Regions from separate parts of the Homo sapiens genome. Here region 1 is linked to region 2. Evidence: fine-mapped expression QTL. Tissue or cell type: blood mononuclear cells. Region 2 holds a variant in brackets; the other region holds the start of a gene. All regions are shown on one strand. Distances are from middle to middle. Region 1 holds the start of NAP1L3 (nucleosome assembly protein 1 like 3). Region 2 has its middle 110 kb from the start of FAM133A.

The links. PIP is the estimated chance that this variant, and not a neighbour inherited with it, causes the effect.
Region 1: NAP1L3 starts here. The variant in region 2 is the best candidate, but not a certain one, in a credible set for the expression of NAP1L3 in blood mononuclear cells (TOPMed, PIP 0.78).

What each region holds. Positions count from the first base shown.
Region 1 is chrX:93,671,902-93,676,308 of GRCh38, reverse strand. NAP1L3 (nucleosome assembly protein 1 like 3) reads left to right here and starts at 2,731. Exons shown (of 1, transcript NM_004538.6): 1 at 2,731-4,407. The coding sequence starts at 3,005. FAM133A (family with sequence similarity 133 member A) reads right to left here and starts at 2,103. Exons shown (of 4, transcript NM_001171109.2): 1 at 2,035-2,103; 2 at 1,557-1,628.
Region 2 is chrX:93,778,373-93,782,779 of GRCh38, reverse strand. No RefSeq gene overlaps it. Among named protein-coding and RNA genes, the nearest start is that of FAM133A, 110 kb to the right of the region's middle. The variant A/G (reference allele first, on the strand shown) is at 2,105.

The DNA.
Region 1 (4,407 bases), 110 kb after region 2:
TTTTGAGTTACTTTTAATTTCTTCTTTGTATTTCAATGTATTGCCTGACTTTATCAATGAACACATATCATCTTCACAAAATGTAAAGTTATCTTAAAACCGACTCATTAGTTGTTTGCAGCAAACGTCTGACCAATGGATCAGAAAAGAATTTAGAGACAGACCCAAGCAATTTATTTAATGTGATCAAAATAGCATTTCAAGTAAGCAGGAGATAGAAAGATTACCAAATAAATGGTACTAGAAGAATTAGCTAGCTAATAAAAATAAATATTTTAAAAATCTGGATCCCTAACTCATGACTGACTCTAAAATACTAATTCCTAATGCTACAAAGTTTAAAACATAAGAGCATACATTTTTTTAAATCTCCATAATTTAAAATAAAAATAGTAAGTTTCAGAACAATATTTATGGTATAACATCAATGACGTAAATCATTGTTTCTATAACATATGTTTTGATTAAAATTATTCAACGAAAGGATATGCACTTAGTAAATTTCATTCACCATTATACTACAATCCTCTACCACATTTGCCCGGCATATGACAAGCACAAAAATATATTAGTTGAATAACAAAAAAATGAACTTTATGCACTGTTGGAACTGTAAATTGTGATAATAATTCTGCAGAGAGTTTGGCAATATGTATACAATAATAATTTCATAATATGAAATGATCATCCCCAAGCCATCCATTTCTAGGAATTTATCTTATGACCAATTTTCACAAGTGCATAGAAATACATGCTTTAGGTATCCAGGGACACTTTGATTATAGCAGGAAAATAGTATGTATTTAAGGGGAGAGATGGTATAGAAATGGCCACCCTATAACAGGAATCTGGTCAAATAAATTAAGGCAATTATTTCCATGGAATATGCACTTACTTAAAAATAAGATGTCGATCATTTGCCATGAAAATATAGCCATTAGTAATTGATAAATTAAATGAAAAGATTACAAAACATAATATGGTGTCACATAGATAAAGCAGTATACATAAATAGGCAGGTATGTATATGCACAAGGAAATTTCTGGAAGGAAGTGCATCAAAATGCTAGTAATTCTTATCATTTGGTGGTTAAGATTTTGTGTTTTTACTACTGTTGGAATTTTCTATATTGTTTTATCTTTGCAATGTTCACAGACTTTGACAATTAGAGATAAACAATAAAAGTAAATGCATTTATGAAACAGAAAAGCGTTTCCTAACTTTTAAAAAACGTGATTACATGACAAAGCACAAATTCTATAAAGATTAATCTAACTTTAATACATTTCCTCATTTGAAATGAATAATTTATCATATTTCATATTTTAATTTACCACTTGTATTCTATGACCAGGTTTAGATAGTTAATGCGGTTAAGTATGTAATTGTCTACATTAGTATGCCAAATTACCTCTGTGGATTTTCCTGTTTCCATAGAATTATCAAGATAATTCTCTAAAATAAATCTTTAAATGACTGTATCCTGTAAACTTTTATTCAGATGGAGATGAGTAATTTTTGTCATTCTTTAAAATGTGCTAAATATGATCCTTACCTTTCAATGAAAAGTAAATACTCGTCTTTTTTATTGTACCAAGGGAGTTGTTCTGTAGCAGAAAAAAAAATCCTGTAAATAAAAATAACAAATACTCGTTTTTAAACTTCATTTTGCAAAAGTTTATTCACATATTACTGGACTTGTAAATCATACTATAGTATGGCTAGAATTTTACAACATTAGAAGGAAATTGGTGGCAGATGACATCGCATACACTGACAGAAGATGCACATTCATTAGCACAAATTCCCCCTCCCATCCCACTGTTCTTGGAATTGAAACCTGCTGCACAAAAGTATAACGCAAATCATTTGCTTTTTAACAATACTACCTAACATTTAATACCTCTTTGTTTTATCTACAAGGTTGTTACAAGCATTGAGAAGGGCTACGTGGCAAGTTAGCAGCAAGGTTGGGGTATATAATATGCCAGCCTAAAAAGAGAAATATAATAAAAATGGTGTAACTGACTCACGGCAACATGGGTTCGCAAACCTTGTAGATGGATATAAACCAGGCTTGCCAAACATCACAGACAGCACTTATTAAATCAGCTTCGTGGAATGCAATACGCCTGCTGTCTAGTCCCTCCCTCCTCTGCCAATAACCGACTCTCCCCTTTTTTATCCAGTGTAAAAATGCATGCTCATAGAATATTTAGAGAAAATCGTTTTGTTTTTAAATCGTCCATAGTCACACTACCCAATGACGCCATTTGGACCATTTTCATTCAATTTTTTTTTTTTTTTTTTTTTTTTTTTACAGCTTTTTGTCAAGAGACCCGTGACAAACTAAACGGGAATTCAGGGTGGGCGGATGGGAGAAGGAAGACACGCCTCTTTTGCCCTTGTTAGGAACTATGGCTGGTATTTTTACCTCATGTCTACGCTTTTTTTTCTTTTTTAATTATAAAACTATAAATATAGACTTTTTGGGGGGCAGGGGGACACCTTCCAAGGGGTCGCACCTCAGCCAGCGAGCGGCGTCTGGGAAGGTGGGCGGAGCCAGGAGTAGTGGCGTTTGGCCGTTCGTTGGGCGTACAGTTTGTCAATTAAGGTGGACCAGCAAATGAGGAGCGAACTAAAGGCACACTGGGAACGAAATTAACGGGAGGTCTGACTGCAAGGGGAGGGGGCTCGCGATCTAAAACGAGAAGAGATCTCGGGGTCTCATACTGCGCCATTCGGCTGCGGTACATCTCGGCACTCTAGCTGCAGCCGGGAGAGGCCTTGCCGCCACCGCTGTCGCCCAAGCCTCCACTGCCGCTGCCACCTCAGCGCCGGCCTCTGCATCCCCAGCTCCAGCTCCGCTCTGCGCCGCTGCTGCCATCGCCGCTGCCACCTCCGCAGCCCGGGCCTCCGCCGCCGCCACTCAAGCATCCGTGAGTCATTTTCTGCCCATCTCTGGTCGCGCGGTCTCCCTGGTAGAGTTTGTAGGCTTGCAAGATGGCAGAAGCAGATTTTAAAATGGTCTCGGAACCTGTCGCCCATGGGGTTGCCGAAGAGGAGATGGCTAGCTCGACTAGTGATTCTGGGGAAGAATCTGACAGCAGTAGCTCTAGCAGCAGCACTAGTGACAGCAGCAGCAGCAGCAGCACTAGTGGCAGCAGCAGCGGCAGCGGCAGCAGCAGCAGCAGCAGCGGCAGCACTAGCAGCCGCAGCCGCTTGTATAGAAAGAAGAGGGTACCTGAGCCTTCCAGAAGGGCGCGGCGGGCCCCGTTGGGAACAAATTTCGTGGATAGGCTGCCTCAGGCAGTTAGAAATCGTGTGCAAGCGCTTAGAAACATTCAAGATGAATGTGACAAGGTAGATACCCTGTTCTTAAAAGCAATTCATGATCTTGAAAGAAAATATGCTGAACTCAACAAGCCTCTGTATGATAGGCGGTTTCAAATCATCAATGCAGAATACGAGCCTACAGAAGAAGAATGTGAATGGAATTCAGAGGATGAGGAGTTCAGCAGTGATGAGGAGGTGCAGGATAACACCCCTAGTGAAATGCCTCCCTTAGAGGGTGAGGAAGAAGAAAACCCTAAAGAAAACCCAGAGGTGAAAGCTGAAGAGAAGGAAGTTCCTAAAGAAATTCCTGAGGTGAAGGATGAAGAAAAGGAAGTTCCTAAAGAAATTCCTGAGGTAAAGGCTGAAGAAAAAGCAGATTCTAAAGACTGTATGGAGGCAACCCCTGAAGTAAAAGAAGATCCTAAAGAAGTCCCCCAGGTAAAGGCAGATGATAAAGAACAGCCTAAAGCAACAGAGGCTAAGGCAAGGGCTGCAGTAAGAGAGACTCATAAAAGAGTTCCTGAGGAAAGGCTTCAGGACAGTGTAGATCTTAAAAGAGCTAGGAAGGGAAAGCCTAAAAGAGAAGACCCTAAAGGCATTCCTGACTATTGGCTGATTGTTTTAAAGAATGTTGACAAGCTCGGGCCTATGATTCAGAAGTATGATGAGCCCATTCTGAAGTTCTTGTCGGATGTTAGCCTGAAGTTCTCAAAACCTGGCCAGCCTGTAAGTTACACCTTTGAATTTCATTTTCTACCCAACCCATACTTCAGAAATGAGGTGCTGGTGAAGACATATATAATAAAGGCAAAACCAGATCACAATGATCCCTTCTTTTCTTGGGGATGGGAAATTGAAGATTGCAAAGGCTGCAAGATAGACTGGAGAAGAGGAAAAGATGTTACTGTGACAACTACCCAGAGTCGCACAACTGCTACTGGAGAAATTGAAATCCAGCCAAGAGTGGTTCCTAATGCATCATTCTTCAACTTCTTTAGTCCTCCTGAGATTCCTATGATTGGGAAGCTGGAACCACGAGAAGATGCTATCCTGGATGAGGACTTTGAAAT
Region 2 (4,407 bases):
TGCCCTATATGCAGGGAAAATTAAGCTAGGATCACCAATATCGGTGTTGGTAGAGAAGTAGGTACCTAGGGTCAAGTAGGCCAAGTTTATGGTGGCACCACATTCTACATCCTAAACCCTAACTCTAACTCCACAAGAATTAGGAAGTTTCTTTTCATTTAAGACAAAAGGGTGATAAGGGCAAATAATTTCCAAATAATATTTTCCCTCCCAAAACACTCCTTTAAAATCATGCAGTGACTTTCTATTGCACTTGAAATAAGACCCAAATATGTCCCTACGTAATCTGTCCACTACCTCCCTTCTCTGACTCTATATCACACCATTCTTTCCTTGCCCTTTATGCTCCAGTCACACTGCCCTTCTGTTTCATGAACACACCAAACTGGCCTTTGCCTCAGAGCCTTTGTGCTTGCTCTTCCACCTGCTTGTAATACTGTCCTCACTTTGCATCACTCAGAGCTCGGGTAAAATATCATTTTTTCCAAGAGACCATCCCAATCCATCCTACCTAAAATAACCTCCAATCCTGTACCCAGCCCCATCATTTTCTGCCCCATTACATTGTTTTATTTTCTTGCTACCAGAAGCTGTTCAACAAATGTTTGTAGACTAAAGTAACACCTCACAGATTAATCCTTGAAACATCTCCACTTCAAAGTGACTGTGCAGAGGTCTTAGACAAATGCAGAATCTATTTTAGGTTAAAATGGATGAAAGTAAATCGATAATTTATATATTCCCAAATCTCTGAATATGTGGTATCAAAAGAATCAGGATAACTAGTTGATTTTTTAAAAATTTACCCAATAGATATGACTGTAAAAACTTGGTTTGCCATGATTCTTACCAAGAACTTTCTTCCTTTGGATGTAGAAAAGGGAGAGGAAATGAAATCAAGCATCCTCCCTTGAGAAACTCTTTATGTATCAGAATGTAATAATCTCACATCTGCTGGTCACTTAACATGTTGAATGACACTGAATGGACAGAGGACATAAGTTTTACCAATAAATGGCTGGGAAGACTTGGACAAATCAATTCAGTGTTTCTATCTGTTATGTGGGAATGAGAGTTTGTGTTTTGTCTGACTCACTGACCTATTGTGAACTTCAAATTAAAGAATGCTTATGAAAATACAATATACTGTCAAGTCCCATGGAAATGTAAAGTATGGTTTTCACAAAAGTGTTGTAATTTCCCAAAAGGAGAACCAGAATGTATTTGTACAATATTCAAACATTTCTAGAAAATGAGTGTCTTTGTTGGCTATCAGTATTTAAACCCAGTCAAGATTCCACCTGATCATAAATTTAATACATTCTCCAGATCTATATAGACATATTAAATAATTATTTTGCAATAATAAGAGCAAATTGGAACTGCTCACCTTATGTATAGCAGACCACAAATTTCCCTGCTAAGATTATGATAGATTCACTGGGCTAAGAGACAGGACCAGCAATGAAGGATCCCCAATAACTGAACAGATCCAGTTTTAAAACAGGCTCTGTTATAAACAATAACAGTAGTATGATGGGAGAAGCAATAGAGGTCCTAGAAATACCTTCTCTTTGTCTTAAATTTCACACTTTGAAGAAGTACTTTTCACCTATATTAGTACATTTTAGTTTGGTTGAGGCAATCCTTATCTTCTTGGGTGGGACAACTCACTAACTCCTTAAGACTGTAGCAGAAATTAATTTATCTGATTAACTTAACCCCATCTACTGCTAATTAGTGAAAAATGCTAATGGAATCTCTGAGGAAGCCAGAAAAAGAAGATTAGATAAATTTTGCCTGTGTAAAAGATGTCATGGAACATGTTATTCTAATTTGAACAGATGAGGCTTTAAAATGGGCCCTGAGCAGCGAAGAGACAGCAAAGAGGATATCTTAAGGGACCACAGAAAGTCAATATGACCATGCAACTAGCAGGCAGATATTCAAAAATAGTTCCACTCTACTAAACCCACAATGTAGCTAGACTTCAATGCAAGCATAAGTTAATTAAAACTAAAAAGACTTTTGAAAAGCCCTTTCCTTATTAAGCTTTGATGCTATTTATACACAAAGTAATTTTTAAAAATTATCTTAACTAGAT[A/G]TTCACCAAAACAAAATATTCTAACTTGTCCTTGATAATTACAAGTATATTTTTGTCTTTTGCTAATGAAAGTATTCTTATTATTGTCTACTTCTATGAATTCTGGTCAATTCTGATCTAATAAAGAAGAAACGTTACAGCAGAAATTCAATTAATCCAATGCATTTTAACAATTAGAGAAATGAACCTAATATAATTCTTTTATAAATTATCTGACTCTAATTTCATTCCAGTTGTTATTTTATTGGAAACAATCTTCCCAATCATTTTTGCTTATCTTTTAAAAGAATTCTGCATAAACTAATTTAAGATGGCCCACATTTTATTAAAAAGTAAATCTTGAGGGTCTAAGGAGGTCATAATTCTACCAAACTTCATGATTTTCTGGAAAGAATATTATAAAGGCCAAAGGTCTTGCTCAGCATCTCCTATAATGAAGCTGGTACAACACTATGACGCTTCCCTGGGTGACAATATTTTGCTTATTATTTATCAATATTTCCAATATTTTCTGCCATAAAACAATGTTATTGTTTCCTTTTTGACAGGTTTTTACAGAGGCTGTAGTAATGTAAATGAATGATTATAAGCCAAGGAAATCATTAAACAAATATAAAACATTTTAATATAAAATAAAGGGGTCCAGGCTTGGTGGCTCAAGCCTGTAATCCCAGCACTTTGGGAGACCGAGGCTGGCAGATTGCTTGAGCCCAGAAGTTTGAGACCAGCCAGGGCAACATGGTGAGACCCTGTCTCTACAAAAAATAATAATAAAAATAGCCAAGCATGGTGGCACGCACCTGTAGTCCCAACTACTCAGGAGGTTAAAGTGGGAGGATCACTTGAGCCTGGGAGGTTGAGGCTGCAGTGAGATCGAGATCGTGCCACTGCACTCTAGCCTGGGTGACAGAGTGAGAGTCTGTCAAATGAATATGTACATATATATGTACATAATAAAGAATATGTATCAAAAGGCATTCATCCTAAAAAATTAAACAAGTGGAAAAATATGTATGAACAAGAATGCTCATTCTGGTGCTGTTGGTAATAGTGAAAAAGTGGAAACAATCTAAATATCTATCTAAAGGTAATTGGTTAAATAAATTATCTCATATCTATACAATGAATGGCTAAGCACCCATCAAAATTTCGTATCTAGATATATACCTATTAAACTGAAAAGATGCTTATGATGTATTCTTTGCAAAAAAAAAAGGAAAGCATGATTGTTGGAAGGTTAGAATGACCCTTGTGAAAGAAAAACAAGCAAATAAATAAAGCATTTTTAAGAGAAATTTGGTAATGTATACCAAAATACAAAAATAATGAAAGGTACTTCAGTAATTTAAATCCTGCTAATAACAGTAAAAATACTCAAAACCATTTCAATGTCCATCAGTAGGAGACTGATATGGTTTGGCTGTGTCCCCTTACAAATCTCATTTTGAATTGTAACTCCCACAATTCCCATGTGTAGTGGGAGGAACCTGGTGGGAGGTTATTGAATTATGGGGGTGGGTCTTTTCTGTGCTGTTCTCATGATAGTGAATGAGCCTCATGAGATCTGATGGTTTTACAAATGGGAGTTTCCCTGCACAGGCTCTCTCTTTGCCTGCTGCCACGCATGTAAGACGTGCTTTGCTCCTCCTTGCCTTCTGCCATGATTGTGAGGCCTCCCCAGTCATATGAAACTGTAAGTCCATTAAATCTGTTTCTTTTGTAAATTGTCCAGTCTTGGATATATCTTTATTAGCAGCGTGAAAACAGATTAATATAGAGACTGATTCTATACAATGGGATGCTAATGCAGTTATCAGCATCAGAGATAAGAAGGCAGACAACATAATTAAAAATAGGCAAAATATTTAAATGGACACTCCTAAAAAGAAAATATATAAATGAATAATAATCCCTTGGAAGGATGTGCAATATCAGTAGTCACCAGAAAATGCACATTAAAACCCCAATGAGATACATTAACACACCTACCAGAATGCTTCAAATTTAAAAAGACTGAAAATGCCAAGTTTTGGCAAAGATGTAGAGTAACTGTAACTCTCATTCACTATTGTTGAAAATGGAAAATGGTGAAACCTTAATGAAAAACAGTATGGCAACACCTTATGAAGTTAAGCAAACTACCTAGCAATTCCCCTACTTGGTATTAACCATGAGGAATGAAAACACGGCCACAGAATTATTTATGTATGAATATTCATATTATCTATGATAGCCAATAAATGAAGCTCAACTGGTAAAGTGATAAAGAAATTGTAGTATATTCATACCTTGGCATGCTACTC